Linked DNA regions of Homo sapiens: region 2 is linked to region 1. Evidence: fine-mapped expression QTL. Tissue or cell type: whole blood. Region 1 holds a variant in brackets; the other region holds the start of a gene. All regions are shown on one strand. Distances are from middle to middle.

Evidence for each region. PIP is the estimated chance that this variant, and not a neighbour inherited with it, causes the effect.
Region 2: ZC3H13 starts here. The variant in region 1 is fine-mapped to the expression of ZC3H13 in whole blood (INTERVAL, PIP 0.99).

What each region holds. Positions count from the first base shown.
Region 1 is chr13:45,970,257-45,980,941 of GRCh38, forward strand. ZC3H13 (zinc finger CCCH-type containing 13) reads right to left here. Exons shown (of 19, transcript NM_001330564.2): 11 at 9,557-9,748; 12 at 5,027-5,582; 13 at 106-209. Among named protein-coding and RNA genes, the nearest start is that of ZC3H13, 77 kb to the right of the region's middle. The variant T/C (reference allele first, on the strand shown) is at 6,052.
Region 2 is chr13:46,047,889-46,057,207 of GRCh38, forward strand. ZC3H13 (zinc finger CCCH-type containing 13) reads right to left here and starts at 4,858. Exons shown (of 19, transcript NM_001330564.2): 1 at 4,516-4,858. It overlaps CPB2 (carboxypeptidase B2), which reads right to left. Exons shown (of 11, transcript NM_001872.5): 10 at 7,874-7,961; 11 at 5,298-5,910. The coding sequence ends at 5,726. It overlaps CPB2-AS1 (CPB2 antisense RNA 1), which reads left to right and starts at 4,960. Exons shown (of 3, transcript NR_046227.1): 1 at 4,960-5,077. RefSeq lists enhancers at 4,042-4,578, 4,579-5,114, 4,644-4,813, 4,824-5,023.

The DNA.
Region 1 (10,685 bases):
ACTTTTTAAAAATCTTAATTCATCAGTTCCTACTAGTATGAAAGGATGGTTTCATGGTTACAAATGAATATGAATATAGAGAGACAGAAAACAGAGTCTGCTTACTTTTATCATCTCCACTGTTGTAGGCATCACTGTCCGGAGAATGTTCACGCCGGCGCTTCGGGGACTGTCTAGGGCTGGGACTCCCTTCATTTCTATAGCGCTTCCTAAATTGGACAAGCAAACACAATTTATAAAATTCTAGGGGGCAAAAAAAGAGATTTTTTTGTTTTTACTAGTATCTCTTTACTATAACTGGAACATATAATTGTAGGAAAGCAATATTGCCAGAGTGTATCATACAAAGGATATTCAGTGTCTTTAATACAAATTCTTTACTTCATTTGCTAAGAATTGTGAACTTAAAATACACAACATTTCTTCTTCTTCTTCATTATACATGTAGAATAACTCAAGTGAAAATTGCCAGATTTAAATACTGTAAGGTGGTAACATGCAGCACAGAAACCAATATATTAATGTACCCTCTGATATAAACATTCAGCAATTTTGCATTCTTATGATATAAAAATGCCTTATGCTGCAGAGCTGAATGAGAAAACCTAATATTGGCTTTGAAGTAAAAAAGCTATGAGTTCAACTTATAACTACATTAGTTATTACGCAGCCTTAAGTAAGTTCCTTGAAGTCACTGAACCTTAGTTTCTCATCTGAAAATGGTGGGTGGGGCTGAATGGGTGGGAAATGAGAGTCCATTTCATAAAATTGCAGTAAGGAATAAATTAGTTATGTCATAAACCCAGTGCCAAATATGTTGTGGGTACACCATAAAATTAGTTCCTTTCCCCTTCATGGAAATCACTTTCTTGCTGACAAATTAATAAAATAATTCATACGTTCATTATATTTTTTGTTCCTTAGTTGAGCTTTAAATGAGTAGCGTTTTATATCTCTTGGGTACTTAAATTATTCTAGTGTTTTCCCCCATTTTCATTAAAATTTGACTACCTGTTTTTTCACTAACATTGTTTGTTTATAAATACTATGGTCAAAAGTTAAGAAACATATTGTATACATGGACCAATGGAACAGAATAGAAAACCCAGAAATAAAGCCAAATGATCTTCAGCAAAAGCATACAAAACATAACTGGGGAAAGGACACTCTATTTACTAAATGGTGGTGGGAAAATTGGCAAGTCACATGTAAAAGAATGAAACCGGATCCCTCTCAGCTCAAACAAAAATCAGCTCAAGAAGGATCAAAGACTTAAATCTAAAACCTGAAACCATTAAAATTCTAGAAATTAACACTGGGAAAACTCTTTTGGACACTGGCCTAGGCAAAGACTTCATGGCCAAGATTCTAAAAGCAAACGCAACGAAACCAAAAATAAATAAATGGAACCTAATTAAACTAAAAAGCTTCTGCACAGCAAAATAAATAACAAAGACAACCCATAGAATGGGAGAAAATGTTTGCAAACTATGTATCCAACAAAGGACTAGTATCCAGAATCTATAAGAAACTCAAATAAATCAGCAAGAAAAACATAAATAATCCCATCAAAAAGTGGATAAAGGACACGAATAGACATTTCTCAAAAGAAGACATACAAACAGCCAACAAACGTATGAAAAAATGCTCAAAATCACTAATCATCAGGGAAATACAAATTAAAAACCACAATGAGATGCCACCTTACTCCTACAAAAATGGCCATTAAAAAGTAAAAAAAACAGGAGATGTTAGCATAGACATGGTGAAAAGGGAATGCTTATTCACTGCTGGTGGGTATGTAAATAAGTACAACCTCTATGAAAAACAGTATGGAGAGTCCCTAAAGAACTAAAAGGAGATATTTGATCCAGCAATCCCACTACTGGGTATCTACCCAAAGGAAAAGAAGTCATTATATGAAAAAAAAAAACATGCACATATATGTTTATAGCAGCAAAATTCACAACTGTAAAGATATAGAACCAACCTAAGTGCCCATTGGCCAATGGGTGGATAAAGAAAATGTGGTATATATACACCATGAAACCATGGACTACTACTCAGCCATAAAAAGGAAAAAAATAATGTCTTTTGCAGCAACTTGTTCTCACCTGTAAGTGAGAGCTAAGCTATGAGTATGCAAAGGCATACAGAGTGATATAATGGGCTTTGGAGACTCAGAAGGGGGAGGGTGGAAGGGGAGTGAGGGATAAAAACGTACATGTTTGGTACAATGTGGACTACTCAGGTGACAGGTGCACTAAAATCTCTGAATTCATCCAGGTAACCAAAAACCTCTTGTACCCTAAAAGCTATTGAAATAAAAATAAAACAAAAACATACCAGCACATGTATATCATAGACAGCTCCTTTATATAGATGAACAACCATGTGGAGAAGGCCCCAGGTGTAATATGACAACTCACAGGCCCAAGCTTGTGTACTACTTTATCCAAAGCTCCTCTCCCATCAATAACTGGCCTATTTCCCCATTTTTCATATCTAATGACTTGCTATGACAAGAGAATGTGGTGAAAGTGACACTGTGCAAATGTGAAGAGGATTCAGGAGGCCTTGCTGCTTCAGCTTCTGCCCTCTTGTTGTTTCTACCATTACATGCAAAGCAGAGTTTAGACTACTGAAGGCCAGGGGGTCAAGTGGAGGAGAAACAAGATGCCCTAATTGCCAGACACATGAATGAGACAATCCTGGGCCTCCAGGCCCAGCTGCATTGTCAGATGTAATGTTGATACAGGAGTTACTCCAAGTGAGACCAACAGAACAACCACTCTATTGAGCCCAGGCAAAACTGCCAATCCACAGAATCATGAGCAAATAAATGGTTGTTGTTTTAAGCTACTAACTTATGTGGTGATGTGTTATATATCAAGAGATAACTGACAGACTGGAATAAAGTGAAAATTTAAAACATGAGAAAAAGTTATTTCAAGGAAATACCTAAATAAACACAATTAGAGTAAAATAAATACAGCAATTAGGCAAACGTTCTACATAAGAGCAGTTAAAAAAAGTGCTGGATAAATTGAACTACTGAGATGACAATACAGTTAATGAAAGATTAAGATATTAATCTCATGTAATTAGTTTCTGTTATAGAGTTATTCAACTTCTAAATTTCTGGGGTCATTGTCAACTCTTAGATTGTCTAACCATGAAAAACCAGAAAAACTTTTGCTATTATAAGCAGATATCAGAAGCATGAAAAAAATACAGGTTGCGTATCCCTTATCCATGAAATGCTTTAGGTTTTGAATATTTGCATTGTACTTACTGGTTGTGCATCCTTCATGTGAAAATCTGAAATGTTCCAATGAGCATTTCCTCTGAGTGCCATGTCAGTGTTTAAAAAACATTAGATTTTGGAGCATTTCAAATTCTGAATTTTTGGATTTGGGATGCTCAATCTGTACTAATGAAAGCAGAGGACTGAATAAAAGATAAATAACAAAGATTTCAGAATTTTAATCTTAGAAAATAAAGAGGTCAGAAAAGTAGCGGGTGGGGAGGGTGGGAATATGTACCTGTGCCTCCATGTGTTAAAAAAGGTATCTCTGAAGTTTATGTTCAGGTAAGATTTTTCAAAATGTAAGGAGAGGGAAGCAGGAAAGTAATCCAAGGAGTGTACTACAGAAAACCATGGCTGTAGATTAAAGAACAGCCAAGACCTAAGGGAAGAAAGTTCTACTTCTGTGCTGTGTTGTTTGGCCCTAACCATAATCCACAATAGTGAGGATGAAAAAAGCCTAAAGCAGGGACCCTGTATTCGCCCTGTGGCAAATGAGTTGGAGGTAAGAGCAAGAAAATTGAAGATACATAAATTATTTTCTCAGTATGTTTTGGCAAGGTAAACCACAGTGTTTATCCCAGTTGGAGGCAAAAAAGTAGTTAACTCTAGTAAGTTTGGTTTTGTGCCCACAGAACTTCAAAATTGACCAATCTGAGTCTAGAATTCTCATGAACACTGTGATCAGCTTAGTCAATAACTGTCTCCTCACCAACTAATGAGAGCCCCAACTCAGAGAGGACTGCTAAGCTGACAGGGACAACTCTGGGGCCATCTTAGCCATCATATGGAGAAAACCTTTCTGAGACTGAAATTAATACAGAGGGAAACTGGAGAGATGGAAACTGCTAATGCTTTGTTTGAGAATCTGGATATAGCCACATCAGAACAAGCAAAAGCTAATCTCCAACTTCCTAGATATTTGAGCAATAAGTTCTTTTCTGGTTAAAAGGGGGTGAGGTGGGAGAATGCCCTTAGGTATATCAGATGCCAAGAACACATTTTTTGACCCCAAAGAACTACTCCACAGCACAAGAGAAGACACTTCCTTTTCTCTCATCTTCGAACCATGCAGTGATTACAAGGATTCCCTCAGTTCCAAGACATTGTGAATGCTTCCTGTAGCCTGGGGGTAGTGACTCCATAATTACAAGCACATAAAAGTCATGAAGGATCATCAGAATGGCACAGGTGATATCCCTTGGTGACTAGTCTAGGGGATGTGATGGGATACAAGTTCACTGATTCCTGTCTTAATTTAAAAATTATTTTTTCTAGACAACTGAAAAAACTTTTTTTTTTTTTCCTGAGACAAGGTCTCGACCCAGGCTGGAGTGCAATGACATAATCTTGGCTCACTGCAACCTCTGCCTCTCAGGTTCAAACAATCCTCCCATCTCAGCCTCCCAAGTAGCTGGGATACAGGCACGTGCCACCACGTCCGGCTAATTTTTGTATTTTCTGTAGAGATGGAGTTTTGCCATGTTGCCCAGGCTGGTCTCAAACTCCTGGCCTGAAGGAATCTGCCTGCCTCGGCCTCCCAAAGTGCTGGGTAAAAAAACTTTAAACACCGATACATATACTAAATTTGAAAAACAGGAAAATATACAGAGAAAAAAAATTAACAGGAAATTAAGAGTATATTGAAAAGCATTAAATGAAACTTTGAATTCTTTCCTGAAATGTAAAATGTTATTAATAACTGATAATTATTCTTACTTTGATTTTCTTTCATCATGTCCATCTCTTGGATTCCTATCTTCTCGGATCTCTTCTCGCTTTTCTCTGCGGTCATCTCGTCCTTTGTCTTTGTCTTCCCAATCCCTTTGGCGTTCTCGTTCTTTATCCCTTTCTCTCGCTCTTTCTCGTTCCCGTTCTCGCTCTCGCTCTCTCTCCCGTTCTCGCTCTCTCTCCCTCTCTCTCTCTTCTCTTTCTCGTTCCCGTTCTTTTTCCCTGTCTCGTTCCCTCTCTCTTTCCCGCTCTCGATCGTGGTCTCGGTCTCTATCCCTTTCACGATCTCTCTCTTTTTCTCTTTCTCTCTCCCGTTCCCTAGCACGCTCTCTTTCTAGTTCTCTCTCTTTTTCTCTTTCCCGATCCCGTTCACGTTCCCTCTCTCTCTCCCGCTCCCTGTCTCGTTCTCGTTCCCGATCTCTCTCTCTAGCCCTTTCATCTCTCCTATCATCCACTCTGTCTACTCTTCGTTCCTCTCTTCTTTCATCACGCTCAAGCTCGTCATTCCTTCCCTGATGTCGAATTGGTGAGCTTGGTCTTTGATCTACAATGAAAATCAAGTTTTGTCAGTGATTAATTTGACAGATAACCTATTGGTAAGACAGCATGGTAAATCTTAAATTTTATCTGTGATAGGGTCACACTGGCAACAAATTACAAACCAAGTAGCATATTTAATTTTAACTTAATATCCAAGTAACAATCGCCCCTAGACCTTAAATTTTTTAAAGATAATTTTTATTTGCCCTCTAACGACCATGTTTCCTGCTCCCCGTCAACCCCCTTCCCCCCTCCCACTGATCAATCTTTGATCTTTCTCTGCATGCTCCCTACCCTACCTCCAGCCCACTGCTCCAACCCCACTTTCTGCCATCTCTACCCTTCACCTCTGATCTTCTCTGTCCCCCCAGCAGGACCTGAGAACACTGGTGGCAAAGGATAGGGGCAGCAGGAGGTGTAGAACATAGGAGCTGAAGGAAAAAAAAAATTTCCCTCGTAAGTCACACCTCTAA[T/C]TTCAGGCCAAAATATATACACATCAAAGTGCAGCTATTATGTGAGGAAAATATAGTAGAACAAAACATATGTCAGAATTTGTTGCTGCAATATAACATGAACTGTAATATTAAGGGTACTGATGTCTAGCAATCTTGAAATAAATGTAAAAAGTGTTTCATATTAGTGATATATATTTGTAATTAATAACCAATTACTAATAAATTAGCTTTAATTACATAAATGATTACTCAGATGAAGAGCTGTTTTCTTAAAATGTTAACTGATAACCTCATCACATTTTATATAAATTTTTTCCATGTACACACAAATCACATAAACACAGAGTAAATGAATGCATGCTGCCCAAATACCCAGTTGAGCAGAAAATTAGTCTGGGATAAAAAAACGTTTAAGAGGATGGCATGAACTTTTTCAAAGAGACAGCCATTTTTGAAAGCAACTACTGCGGTCTGATCTAGGATACTGTGATGTTTCCATTTACATACTATATATCTACTGGTTTTTGATAAAGATCATATTATAATCAGGCCAACAGGTTGGTAAGTGGAACATCTAACATCAACTCATTAAGCAGAACAATTTTAGGATGTTTCTAGGAAGGGTTCAATACAGTATTCTGGATTTCCCTTCCTAATCACTGATTGAAAAGACAAGAATTATCTTATCTTTACTATTTTAGAGGTTATAGACCCAGATACAAATGATCATAGCATTTTAAAGCTGAATCAAAATGAAATCCTACACAGTTGCTTCTCCCCCTTTCTATTTAAAAACAGAAATTATGGTCCAGAGTTGTCTTCCCAATGTCACAGAGATGGTAGATGCATTAGAAGTCAGTTTTCTTAAACCCTTTCACTTTTGCTGAAACCAACTTAAAGTGGTTCTTCTGTACCATACTTTGGATTCCTAGAATGCTATCTACCCATCTTTTGTATTGTCTGAATTCCTGGTTTGGAGGAGTCATACCAACATCATAATCATTACAAGATAACCTGAAACAAATTCAATACCATTAACTTATAGCAAATCATACTTTAAATTTCTAATTACAGCAATATCAGCAAATAGACTATTCAGACATGCTTTTATGGGAGATGTATTTTCCCAACCAAAATATCAATGCTACTTTCTTCAAAGGAAAATGGAAAGAATATAAGAACATCACTTTAAAATGTCTAAATTATCTTCCCCTATCTTTCCCCCAAAATGTGTTATTCAAAGATGTGCTTCTACTTACATATTTCCTTATTTTAATAAATGACATACCAATTCATTAAAGCTGACAATCTCTGGGTTGTCTAAGCCTCATCATATCCAAGTACAATCAACTTCACTTCTAAAATATTTCTTTGTTCCTTTTCCTGTCCCCATAGCTATAGTTATTAACTCAGACCTTGATCAGGTCTTCTTAGATGCCTATGTCATCAACAGTCTAACTAATTGGTATCCTTGTTTTCAATCTTTCCCAACACCCTTAATATGTTTTTGATGAAAATTATTTCTTCCAACTGTTTAAAAGTAGTTATCTTGTAGGCAGTGAAAGGCAATTAAAATCAAATTTTTTAGCCTGACTAGGCTAAACTTAGGTCATTTACTACCTGGCCTATAGTCTTTCATCAGTCCTTTTCCCTGGTTTCTTTTCTACCTTGCCAATTATAGCATACTCTGACTCCAATCTCATAATTCCTTACTACTCCAAAGCACATGTTTCTTTCAGTTCTGGTGTCTGTACATGCTGCACCCTCTCCCTGTAAAGTGCTCCTTCTATAGTTTCCTTTTATTCTTCAGGCCCTAATTCAGATGTCACTTCTTTAGGCAGCTTTCTTGGAATTGCTCAGAATTGTGTTTGCTCCTTTGTCTTCTCACAGAACTTTTATATACAGTAGTAGCATTTTATCACACTTTGTTTTTTTGGGTGGGGAGTTCTTCCCTCTCCCCATTAAATTCTACAAGGACAAGAAATTATTGTACCTCAAGTGCCTAGCAAAGTGCCTGACATGGGTACTCAACAAATATTTGTAAAATATTCATTAGCCTCCAAAATATATTTTTATTTCAATCATACATCTCATAATTATTGAAGTAGTTACAGTAAAATTAAAATAGAGAACTGAACTTCTGGTCAGAAGACCTGAGTTTGAATTCCAGCTCTGGAACCTACTTCTCTATAATATTGTAATCTTACTACTCTTAGATCTAATCCCCAAAACTGTGAAAACATGAATTATTTTATCATACCTACACTTACAAGGATATTGTAAAGACTAAGTCAGAATATATGTAAAGCAACTATCAAAGTTCTTGGCACCTAGTAGAAGATCAATACATGTGGTTGAACTAACCATAAGATTGAAACCAAATGTTACTATTGAATTCAGGCATGAGATGAGAAAAATCTGAGCAAGGATATGAAAATAGAAAAAAAGGAAAAAAGAAATTTAAAAAAAAGCATCACCAGTTCTAAAAGTCCCAGGGAAGAAAAAATTTCAGATATCAACACAGAACATAGAAACTCCAGCCCTATCTGTAACTAAGGAAATTCTACACATCTTTTAACCAAAATGCATTAGGCTTACCTTATAAACTCAACCTAATCAATTCTCCTACTTCTGATCCTATCTATGCTCCCAAAAGTAGATGATGCCTTAGAAACTTTATTCTTCTCCCACTACTAACCAATCAAGATATAATATTACCTCTTTGATTCAGCCCATAGTAAAGTATCAATATTCAATTCTCTGGGCCATCAAGTTTCATGCTATATTAATCTCAGCATTATAGTGAACCTTACTTCAGCCAAGGTTAGTAAGACCTTCATAAAATTTTTAATGTTTAAAGGCCCTAATAAGTACAGAAATAAAAGCTTGCCAAAGAAAGTATTTACAACCCTTCTTAAGTGCTTCCTAGTAATCTTGCTTCAAAATTCATTTAAGAGATCACCTGATAGATGAACAGAAAAAGTTTTAGCTTAAGACATATAAGAACGTAAAATTAGCTAAAGCAAATACCATATCTTCTCAGGACAGAATACAAATAAAATATTTCTCTAAACAATCCCCAGCCCTATCATTCAGTTTTTTTTTACTGTTCCTTTCTGGAAGTCCTTATAAAATTCTATTGATCATAGCAAATGAGTGAGTAGACAGGATACTCAGATGTAAAGGTTTAGGTATTTCTTGAATCAGAATTGCCTGGAATAGAACCCAACCATCTACATTCTTTAAAGGTTTGTAAGCTATTTGGGTAAGATGAGAAACACACAGTAGGGCACCCAAGTTTTTGCACTTTGTTGCCAGTAGGTACTGGTCACTAGCTATTGACATAATCCCTCCTAAACCATGTGAACAAAGATTATATGAGTATATATAATAGTTTCAAATGTGTCATCGAGCACAAGCCTTAAAGTATATTTTATATTAAAAAGTAAATTGGTAACTGTTTGAAAAAACAATTCGCCCAATTGATATTGTTCACTATTTAATAAAATTCTGTTTGACAAACCTCTCTCTCTGTTGTCACGACGGTCTCGCTCTCCATGTCTTCTCTCAAAGGAAGAATCCCTTGCTTGATCTCTGTTGTCTCTTTCAGGATATCTATCTCTTTCAGGATAGCTACTTCGAGTTTCCCAGCTGTCATGATAGTTGCTATTACTACTGTGACTATCAATTTGAGAACCTCTTGAGCCTCGACTTCCTAAACAAAGGATAGACACACAAATGTTTACCACATACACTTTATTCAACAAATTTCATCAGTCATAATCTTTCCTCCTAAACATCACTAATATATATATTTAATATTCCAAAGTGTGGTAATCACTCCTGAAAAGAGTATCAAGCAATGAATCAGAACAACCAAGGTGTCCAATGACTGACCTGAGTAGACGAAGTCCCAGTTTTCCCTACCTATATAAAAGTCATATGATAAAATCATAAAATAATAAGATTCATTAAAATTAACCTGTCCCCCCAAAAAAAACAAAAAATAAAAACTATTTCTTCATATTTAATTCACAGATATATAAAAATAATGAAAGAAAAAAATGGGTACGTATTATTGCTTAAATACAGTTTACAGTGAAAACATTCCAACATAGAACACCAAGGTTAATGACAACATTAAACTGTATGTGAAAATTTTCATTAACAGATGTGGGAAACAAATGTTCACAGTGGCTTTGTTGATAACAGCCAAAACCTGCAAAGTACACTAATGTCTTTCAATGGATGAACAGTTAAACAAACTGTGGCACATGCATGCCATGGAATACTATTCGGCAATAAAAATGAATGACCGATATATGCAACAACTTGGATGAACCCCAAGAAAAAATTATGCTGAGTGAAAAAGCCAATCTCAACAGGATACATATAGCATTATTCCATTTACGAGACAATTACAAAACAAGGGACACATAAGAGGTTGCCAGGGGTTGGGGCCAGGGGCCAGGGGAGGGTTGTGGCTATAAAGGGGTAATAAAAAGGAATCTTAGGATGTTATAGATGAGTATCTTGACTATGGAAATGGGCTACACATATGATAAAACTACAAAAAGCTACATACAGACATACACCCAAGTGCATGTATACTGGTGAAATGTGAATAAACTCTATGGATTGTACCAATGTCA
Region 2 (9,319 bases), 77 kb after region 1:
AAAACAGGCACAACCATCCCACCACACTGCCTCAAGTGGACTAACACTAATTTTTTATTTTTCCCTCCACTGTCACTGGAAATGAGTTAGTTCTGCCCCCAACATCTCTACTACCCCCAACATGCCTCCACTCCCAGCTCAGTCTCCTTCAAAAAATTCAATGGTAATGGTTTCCAGTTAGGACGACAGGCTATTTATTATCGTACTTATTATACTTAAAACATTGGTCATCTATCATCTCCTTTCTTTTTACTTTTTGAGGGTTCCAGGTATTAACTCTACAGTTTCTTTTTCTGGTCTGTCCTCTGTTGCCTGATTCGCACTACTCTCCTCCCTTGACCTATTGCTTTGCTGGTCTGAGAGCTTCTCTCCAATCCTAGACTCCCTAAGGCAAACTTTGAAGATTTCGCCGGGCGCGGTGGCTCACGCCTGTAATCCCAGCACTTTGGGAGGCCGAGGCGGGCGGATCACGAAGTCAGGAGATCGAGACCATGCTGGCTAACATGGTGAAACCCTGTCTCTACTAAAAATACAAAAACAAAATTAGCCGGGCGTGGTGGCAGGCGCCTGTAGTCCCAGCTACTCGGGAGGCTGAGGCGGGAGAATGGCGTGAACCCGGGAGGCGGAGCTTGCAGTGAGCCGAGATTGCGCCACTGCACTCCAGCCTGGGTGACAGAGTGAGACTCCGCCTCAAAAAAAAAAAAAAAAAAAAAAAAACTTTGAAGATTTCAAGGGTTGGACTTGCTATGAAAGACAATCAAGTGAAGACTAATGATCCACCTCCTCACCTCCCTCACCCTACGCCCATATTCTTTCCACAGAGACAAAATTGCTTTTACCAGTGACATCAAGAACTATTCAAGATTCACCTACATAGTAATTATCCCAGGAATTTCACTTGCAGCTACTACTGTACTGAGTCTCCCAATTTAGCGAAGAAATGAAATTAAGTAAAAATGTGGCCAAGCGCAGTGACTCACGCCTGTAATCCCAGCACTTTGGGAGGCCAAGGCAGGCGGATCACGAGGTCAAGAGATTGAGACCATCCTGGCCAACAGATCGAGACCATCCTGGCCAACATGGTGAAACCCCGTCTCTACTAAAAATACAAAAATTAGCTGGGTGTGGCGGTGCACGCCTGTAATCCCAGCTACTCGGGAAGCTGAGGCAGGAGAATCGCTTGAACCCGGGAGGTGGAGGTTGCAGTGAGCCGAGATCGCGCCACTGCACTCCAACCTGGCAACAGAGGGAGACTCCGTCTCAAAAAAAAAAAAAAAAAAGATGTACTCTACTTTTTCTCAGACTCCAAGAGTACCATACTTTGTCCTAAAGTAATACAGCATCTGAGTATGCGGTCTGGGTTACAGCAAGGTCCTGGACTGAACATTTAAAACAAGAATAATGACAACAATAATACACACACACATATTCTTAATAAAATGTTCTTTAATGTGATATATATATGTGTGTGTGTAAAACGTCTGGTGAAAAAAGAAAAAAGCAGAAACTGAAGATTTCTAACTGAAAAAATTCTTCTGATCATCCATGTAAAAACTTCCACAAGTAGTCAACAATAAAATGTTACTTAAATATTACTAATGAGACATTCATGAATTTGAATAAACAAAATGCTTCATGCTTGTAAAGAACACAATATATAACTTTAAAAATCCCATTTATCTAAAAATATACACACTATCTACAATACAGCAGAAAAACATTTCCTTTTTCATATATTAAAACTAAATGTTACCAACTAATGTGACAATTAGAATTTTCAATCCTATTTAAAACTTTGGGCCCGTAAAGGAAAATGAACACCACAACAGTTAAAATGTAGATTTTCGGGGCGGGAAACTTTTTCAAATTATGTATGAACAGGCTGAACATGACAAGTAAATGCTTCAAAGTATATGAGAAAAATTAGAAACCATAAGATAAAAATGTAAATACTAAAGTCTTTCCTATCATAGAGAATAGAAATCAAGGTCATACCAATAACTTACTAATTTACTCTTCTATGAAGGTTTTCCTCCATTTTTGTTTTCAAATTATTATTTGGTTTAAGTTGCCATCACACTTCCACCCACATCATCAAGTCTTTCTCAAACACGAGCATTATCAAAGACAGAGTGGCACTAGTGAAAGCCTATTTCGTTATTTTCCTATTTCTCCTCTCCATTTGCAGAGCAAATGAATATCTGAAGTCTTTATAATCTCTTTTCAATTAAAAAAGAAAATGGAAAAAGAAAAAGAAAATCCGGGACACAAAGTTTGAGTCTATTAATAAAGACACAACAAAAGAGGGTCTTAAATGGGAACTGCTCCCTTGCCCCGAGAAACTTAGAATAACACTGTACTCAGAAGGTTCACATTATAATTATGGCTGAGAAAGGAGAAGCATACAAAAGGGTCTCTTTTTGAATAATGACTCCAGAAGCTCAATTAATAAAATCTTGTCAATAAACACATATGCGTTCTAGTATCTTCACTTCAATCCATAATTAATTATCTTTTCCAGGTCTCATCTACTGGAAGCATAAGTGAAAGCATAACACTTTAATCCGGATGAGTAGCGGCATAATATTAGGGAAATTTCAAACAATTAGGCAATTAAAACTACATGAATGTACTAACTAGTAGGATAAATCCCTATACTCTGAATTTCTAAGATTAAAAAGGTGATACTAAAAATAAGGTATCTTCACATTTATACTTCATATTTTTAGAAAGAAAAATTAACTTTATTTGATGCATAGTTTGAGAGAATTTTTTAAAAAGAACTTTCTAAAACAAACTTTCAGATTGCTTCCGTAAATTTAATGCTAAAACAATTCCAAACTAAATTCCAAATACAACTGACAGAACTAAGCTGACTACATAGGAATTAGCAAAGCAACACTGCAGTACTATGCAGAAAAAACAATTTGTTAAAAAGACTGTGCACAGAAAACATCCCATGCTGGTAGCTACTCTAAAGTGAAGTAAAAAGAACTGCATCATACAAAAATACAAAAAAAAAAGAATAAAAGACTCTTTCTATATCAACAGCAGTTAATGCTTCAACTACTACTAACAGCTGGAGAAATAGCTCCACCTCTATATGAGATGGAGTTGGGAGAGATGAGGAGGTGAGGAAGACTATCATCCACTGAAAACCAACTCTCTAAGTAAATTTAAGTTAAACAATGTGTTTCCTCTATGTAAATGCCAATGCATATTATAAATACTGATGATATTACAATTTTAATAATTTGTAAAGATGTTAAGATACCATCCACTTGCTGGATTTTTAGTATGTTAAATTCATATTACAAATATGAAAATCACATAAGCTTGCAAATCTCAAAATATGCAATGTTCATTTAGAATGACCAGTAATCAGGAAGCCAGTAAGAGGCATACATTTGATAAAACTGAATCCTACCAGATGCACAGAGTGAAAGCCTTAGTTTCAGAGTGCAACTATTTTTAAAGCCGCAATTGTTACAAGCTTGCATCAACTTTGCTAGTCTCTAGTTGAAACTGTCATCTGTTATAATCTAAATAGTTCATTAAGAAAATAAAAATTATTTGAAAATCTATAGATTGTATTCACAAAACGCTCCAATATATTGTACTAAAGCCAGTAATTTCAAATGTTACAGAACTAGACCCCGCTAACTGGCACCATATACCCATAGACTGAACTGCATAAGTATTTATTCTCCAACGGTATCGCGGACTTCGAAAACTTGAGGTGTAAAGATGTTTTCCAAATTTTTAAAACTACTTTAAAAATCCAAAAATCTTAAGAGACTTCATACTCCCATAATTTTCAAAGTAGTTCGAATTACCTGAAAGCCCCATAGTATAACCAAATACCTTAAGACTACCCTTCACAAACAACATCTTACCAACATAATTCAAGTATTATCAACTCTAAATAATTTTCAAACCACATAAATTGCGTTAGCCTATTACAGAGAGATAATGCCGCCAAACAGACTCTCTTCTTTCTATTCCACTTTCCCCCGTTTCTGACAGTTGCCAAAACTACCTACCTAAGGCTTGTGAAGATAAAGTAGCACTCAATTCCCAGGACCTAAATCGTTATCACTGCTGAGGGAAAAAAAAAAAAACAAGACCAATCACAAGTAAGATGTTTTTCTCTAACAGATCTGGAATGAGTATAGAGGAAGATTCTAAATTTAAGCCCAAATTGCTGCACCCTTCCATCGCACACAAATACGAACACCATACAAGGGTTCCCGTGCTTACATCAAATGGTAACGAGGGGTACAGCCTATTGTCTGAGTCTACTTATCGCCCTTAGACAAATGCCAGAATCATAATCAGAGTGAGAAATTACGCCTGAGCACAGGGGGCTATTGCAGAGTTAAGGGTGGGATGCTCAAGGAAAGCTCAAAATCCCAGTGACTCAAGCAAAGACGGGGGGGGGTAACCCGGGCCTCCGCATTACGGGTCCGCTCAATGCCTTCCCCAGATACCCACACCAATTCACAGAACGCTTACTTCCTCCCCAAGCTCCCTTCGCAAGTGCAGTCCGGAGGCACCACCGCCGCCGCCGCTCCGAGGAGCGGGGGAGGCGACTCTGTCCCCGCGCCTGGACCCAGGAGGACGACGACGAGGAGAAAGCGATGCGCGCGCGGCTCCCGGGAACCGGCTCTTGGCTAGCGAGGAGCCCCCGGGATGGCTGAGAAGCAGAACCAACCCGCCCGCCGCCTCTCCAGGGTCAAGCGAAACTGGGTCGCAGGAAGAAAAATAACGAAGAGATTGTAGATTAAGAAAAGGCAACAAAAACACTACCAGGCCGCTAGGAGGACCGCCTCAAAATGCCGCCGGAAGTCAGAGGTTTGCCCTGTTCCTCTGTAGACCCAGGCAGCTTCCGGCCGTCAGATTAGTCGTCAGTGCGCAGACACCACCCTTCGTGGACACGCCCTCTAGGCGTAAGGTTCCATGCGAGCGGTAAGAGTGCGGCGGGACTTGGAAATCGAATCTGTGCTCTGTGAGAGATCCTAGGAAAGGAAACTGGGAGCCCGGGAGAACTAAAATTCCCAATTAAAAGTGAATTTAAGTGAGTTTTCTCTTTTTATTACATAATTCCTTACCATAAACAGCTGTTGTAAATGCGCAAAATGCGGCATTTGTTGACAGTACCTAGAGCCACTCATTCATTCGTTCAACAGTGTTTATTGAGCAGCTGAGCTGGAATGAGAGGCTATGTTTGTCGTTTTTGACACCCCTCCCCTTTCTGGGCCATCGCCTAATTACCGTGGAGCAAACGGAATGCATGGTTGTATTTCTAAAGGCACAAGCAGAAATTTATTGAAAATTTGGAGCAGAAATCTTTAATGTACTTCTGACCACCCTTCCTTTTGTTGAGTAGGATCCAATGATCAGCGTGAGATGATCATTGATTAAACTTGCTTGAGATGGCTAGTCAAACGTCGAAACTTGCTTGAGATGGCTAGTCAAACGTCGAAAATCAAAGAAAAAGTAGGTAACTAGACTTTTACAATTTTTTTTAAAGGGTAAAAAGACATGAACCCTAGTCTGCCTTAATGGCAAAGTAGCACTTATTAGGTTCTCTGACAGAACCAAGGAATAGGAAAATCTTTTATCAAAACTACGGATAAAACTTAAAAATAATTTGATACAATGATTTGGTCTTGCTGGAATCAGTAAATTAAAATACGGAAGCAGAATGATAAAATCAGGGGCATTAAACATTCCTAATGACATGCCAAGCTATTTTAGAGACAGCGGCAAAAGCTTCTCTACAGGTGGGTTTGATGTAACGCTCCGGCAGCAAGAATCCGTATGTGCCCGTATCTCGAAGTTCAATTGTAAACGAATATTTGATGCCCAAATCATAGATCCAATCGTCCCCACCTCCAGGAGCTAGGTCTAAAAGAAGAAGAAAGAAATTGTTGAAATACAGACGTTTCAAATTAATTTACAAACTGGGAATTGTTTGATTTAAATGTTTATTTGTTTGTATACCTTTAGATTTTTTTCAGTTTTTAACTAATATAAACAACTTTACAATGAGTACCCTTGTTTATACATAATTGCTTCTTTGTCTCTTTAGAATATTCTTCCCTAGAATAGATTTGCTAGTCTAAGGCTCTGTACTTTTTGCAATTACGGCATGTTCCCAAATGGACGTCAAAAGAACTGAATTCATTTATACTTCCACAAGCAGGGTATGAATTTGCCCATTTCCCCTTCCCATACCATCAATAGGAATTATGAATTCTGATAATTTTATGGGCGAAAAATAATATCCAACTGTCTTAATTTATGTTTTTTGATTATCAGTGAGTTGCACATTTGTTTGGCATATTTATTGGCTATCTTTATATTTCCTATCAATTGTCCTTCCTCATTTGTCTACTTGGTTCATTTTATCAATTGCTTATAAAAACGACATTAGTGTTATTAGCTTTGTTTGGCATGTAGACCTTTTTTTCTCCTTTCATTCATTTCTCCTTTCACAAGAATTTTTTCTCCTTACTGAGATTTCAACTTGGTTTATGCAGGGTTTTCATATGAAAATATATGCTGTACCTGGAATTTACTTTGGTGAAAGACATGTTAATAATCCAATTAATTTTTTTCTAGGTAACTTGTTAGGTTTTCCAACCGCATTAATTGAATAATCTGACTTTTTTTGGGGGGGTGCTAAATTGAGTCCAGGTTTATGGCAAAGTCTGACCCAAAATTTTAATTTATAATTTTAGCATCTATCTAATACAGTTTGGGAAGCATCTCATGAAAGCTACAATTGCCAGAAGACTTGTTACAGTTTAATGCATGTTAACTAAAATGTGTACATATTTTAGTGTTCATGATAAATACAGTTTCGACCTTTTTTGAGATGGAGTCTCACTCTGTCACCCAGGCTAGAGTGCAGTTGCACAATCTCAGCTCATTGCCACCCCCACCTCCCAGGTTCAAGTAATTCTTATGCATTAGCCAACCAAGTAGCTGGCATTACAGGCGCCTGCCACCATGCCCAGCTAATTTTTGTATTTTTAGTAGAGACAGGGTTTCACCATGTTGGCCAGTCTGGTCTCGAACTCCTGACCTCAAGTGATCCTCCTGCCTCAGCCTCCCAAAGTGCTGGTATTACAGGCATGAGCCACAGCACCTGGCCTCTTTTTGTTTTTTTCTAATCATTAAAAAAAAAAAAAAAAGGAAAAACCTGGATTTGGCCTTCAGGCTGTAGTTTTCTGATGCCTGGTTACAGGTTTATTTTATGCTCCTCTTTTCCCATCTCCCTTCAAACTTCAAAAGGGCAAAATCAGTCTGTCCTCCCACTGTGTGTAGATAGGAGTTACTCACTAAATATCTTTCAGCAAAAATTAATCAAAACTTTTTGTTAAGAGTTTGTCACAAGTTTTGTGTGTGTAATATATATTAAAGACAATCAACTGTAATGTGTTATGAGCTATACTCTTGGGAACAGGCTAACACTAAAAAACACTTGATGCAAATGGCATGCCCTAGATTAGTGTAGTGTACAACCTGCACAACCTTCCATGGTGGCCCTGGGAATCATGCAAAAGTTTTATGAACTTTTCTGCTTCACTCAACTAGTATGATGCCAATTCTGTAATTCCTACTTGATTGTGATAAATATGATTTCTTAAATAGGATTTTGGCTTCTTTTTAGTAACTCATTTATTAATATAGCTTTGTTCAGCATTGTCATAGCTATTATGCTTCTGTTCCTAATTATTACAATTCAGTTGTATTACATGTGACCCTATTTAATTCAGAAAAATTAAATACACAAAGAAAAACAGATCACACAGATTTCTTTAGTAGCTCAAAGTTCTCTAAGATCATAAGAAGAAATACTTACATAAGGTTTCTGAGCCATGGCCATGTGTATACCTGGTATTTTTACTAATTTTCTCAATAGCACGAACTGCTTCACTGGCTACTAGAGACTGGAAGCAACAAGATATAGAATTTCAGTTAATGTGCAGCTTTGAAACATGACAAGTAGAAGTTTCTAAAAAATAATCATACATTAATTGAATCAAAGTATACAGGTAGAAAATCTAGATTCATCTAAAAGGCAAATAAATAAGGTAAACAAATTAATTTAAAATATGTGCACTTTATGGCAATCACAATTGGGTGGCTTTAAACATAAACTATTTCAATATATTGAAATAATTTATATAAATAAATATATTAATTTGCAGAAAAAAATTATCACATGCCTTTTTGGGAACTCATTTATTATGGAAAATGAAGTATAACTACATCTCAAAGGCTTAGAGGTACTCCATTTCTGAACAAAATTATCACCAAACTTTAAATCCAACCTTTCTAAACACATACAAACACCTAATGCATGCATGACTCACTTCTTATCCTTCTCACAACTTCTATTTTCTTCTTGTGTAAAATGTCTAATGACTTCCATAGATTCATCAAATCAAAAAAGATTATGCCTCTGGTATGGAGCAGGATAATAACTAAGACCCCCATTTGACTTCATTTTGTCTGTTGATATTCATTTTGTCAAATCTATTCTGAAGTTCTCACTTATCTGGAACTTTTCGGAAATTGGAACTAGCATCATGGTATACACTGTCACCTTCTTGAAAAACTCAAGAGATTTATCAGCGGATATTATTTTATGCCATCTCATTGTTCAAAAAATAAGTTTTAATGTAACCCCATTGTCTACATAATGAAATACAAATTTATCTGACAGTCACACCCCTTCAGAAGCCAACCTAATCTACTTTCTGATGCTATCACCCTCCACTTTTGCATCCTCTTATGGTGAACACCAACTTCTTTGCTTGGAAGGTCCTTCCTTCCCTGTCTGCCTATAGAAATCCTCTTTCAATGCCTGTCTAAAATGTAGCTGATCTTTGACATCAACAGCACTTTATTATTTGTAGTTTTTCCCCCCCTTAATAGATTGTAAATTCCTCAAGGACAGTAACTACTTTATCTCCTCACTTATCTCAGCATTTCCCTCTGAATGCATTAGTGAAGCCATCCCTTGATATTCTAGTTAGAAGTGAGTTGTACTGTCTGTGCCACGTATTTAGTAGTTACTCTATGTCGCCTTAGAGTACAACTATTTGTAACATTTGCTAATGGTTGAGCTCCCTAACCATAACACATTCTCTTAAAGGGCAGGATTTTACCTAATGCTTCTTTAAACATCCATTGACAAGGTATTTTACACGTAATGGCTCTCAACATATATGTGTGCTGGCAGTGATGCAAAAAAAAAAAAGCATAATTAGACTAATTCTACTTCCCAAATCATGATAAATTT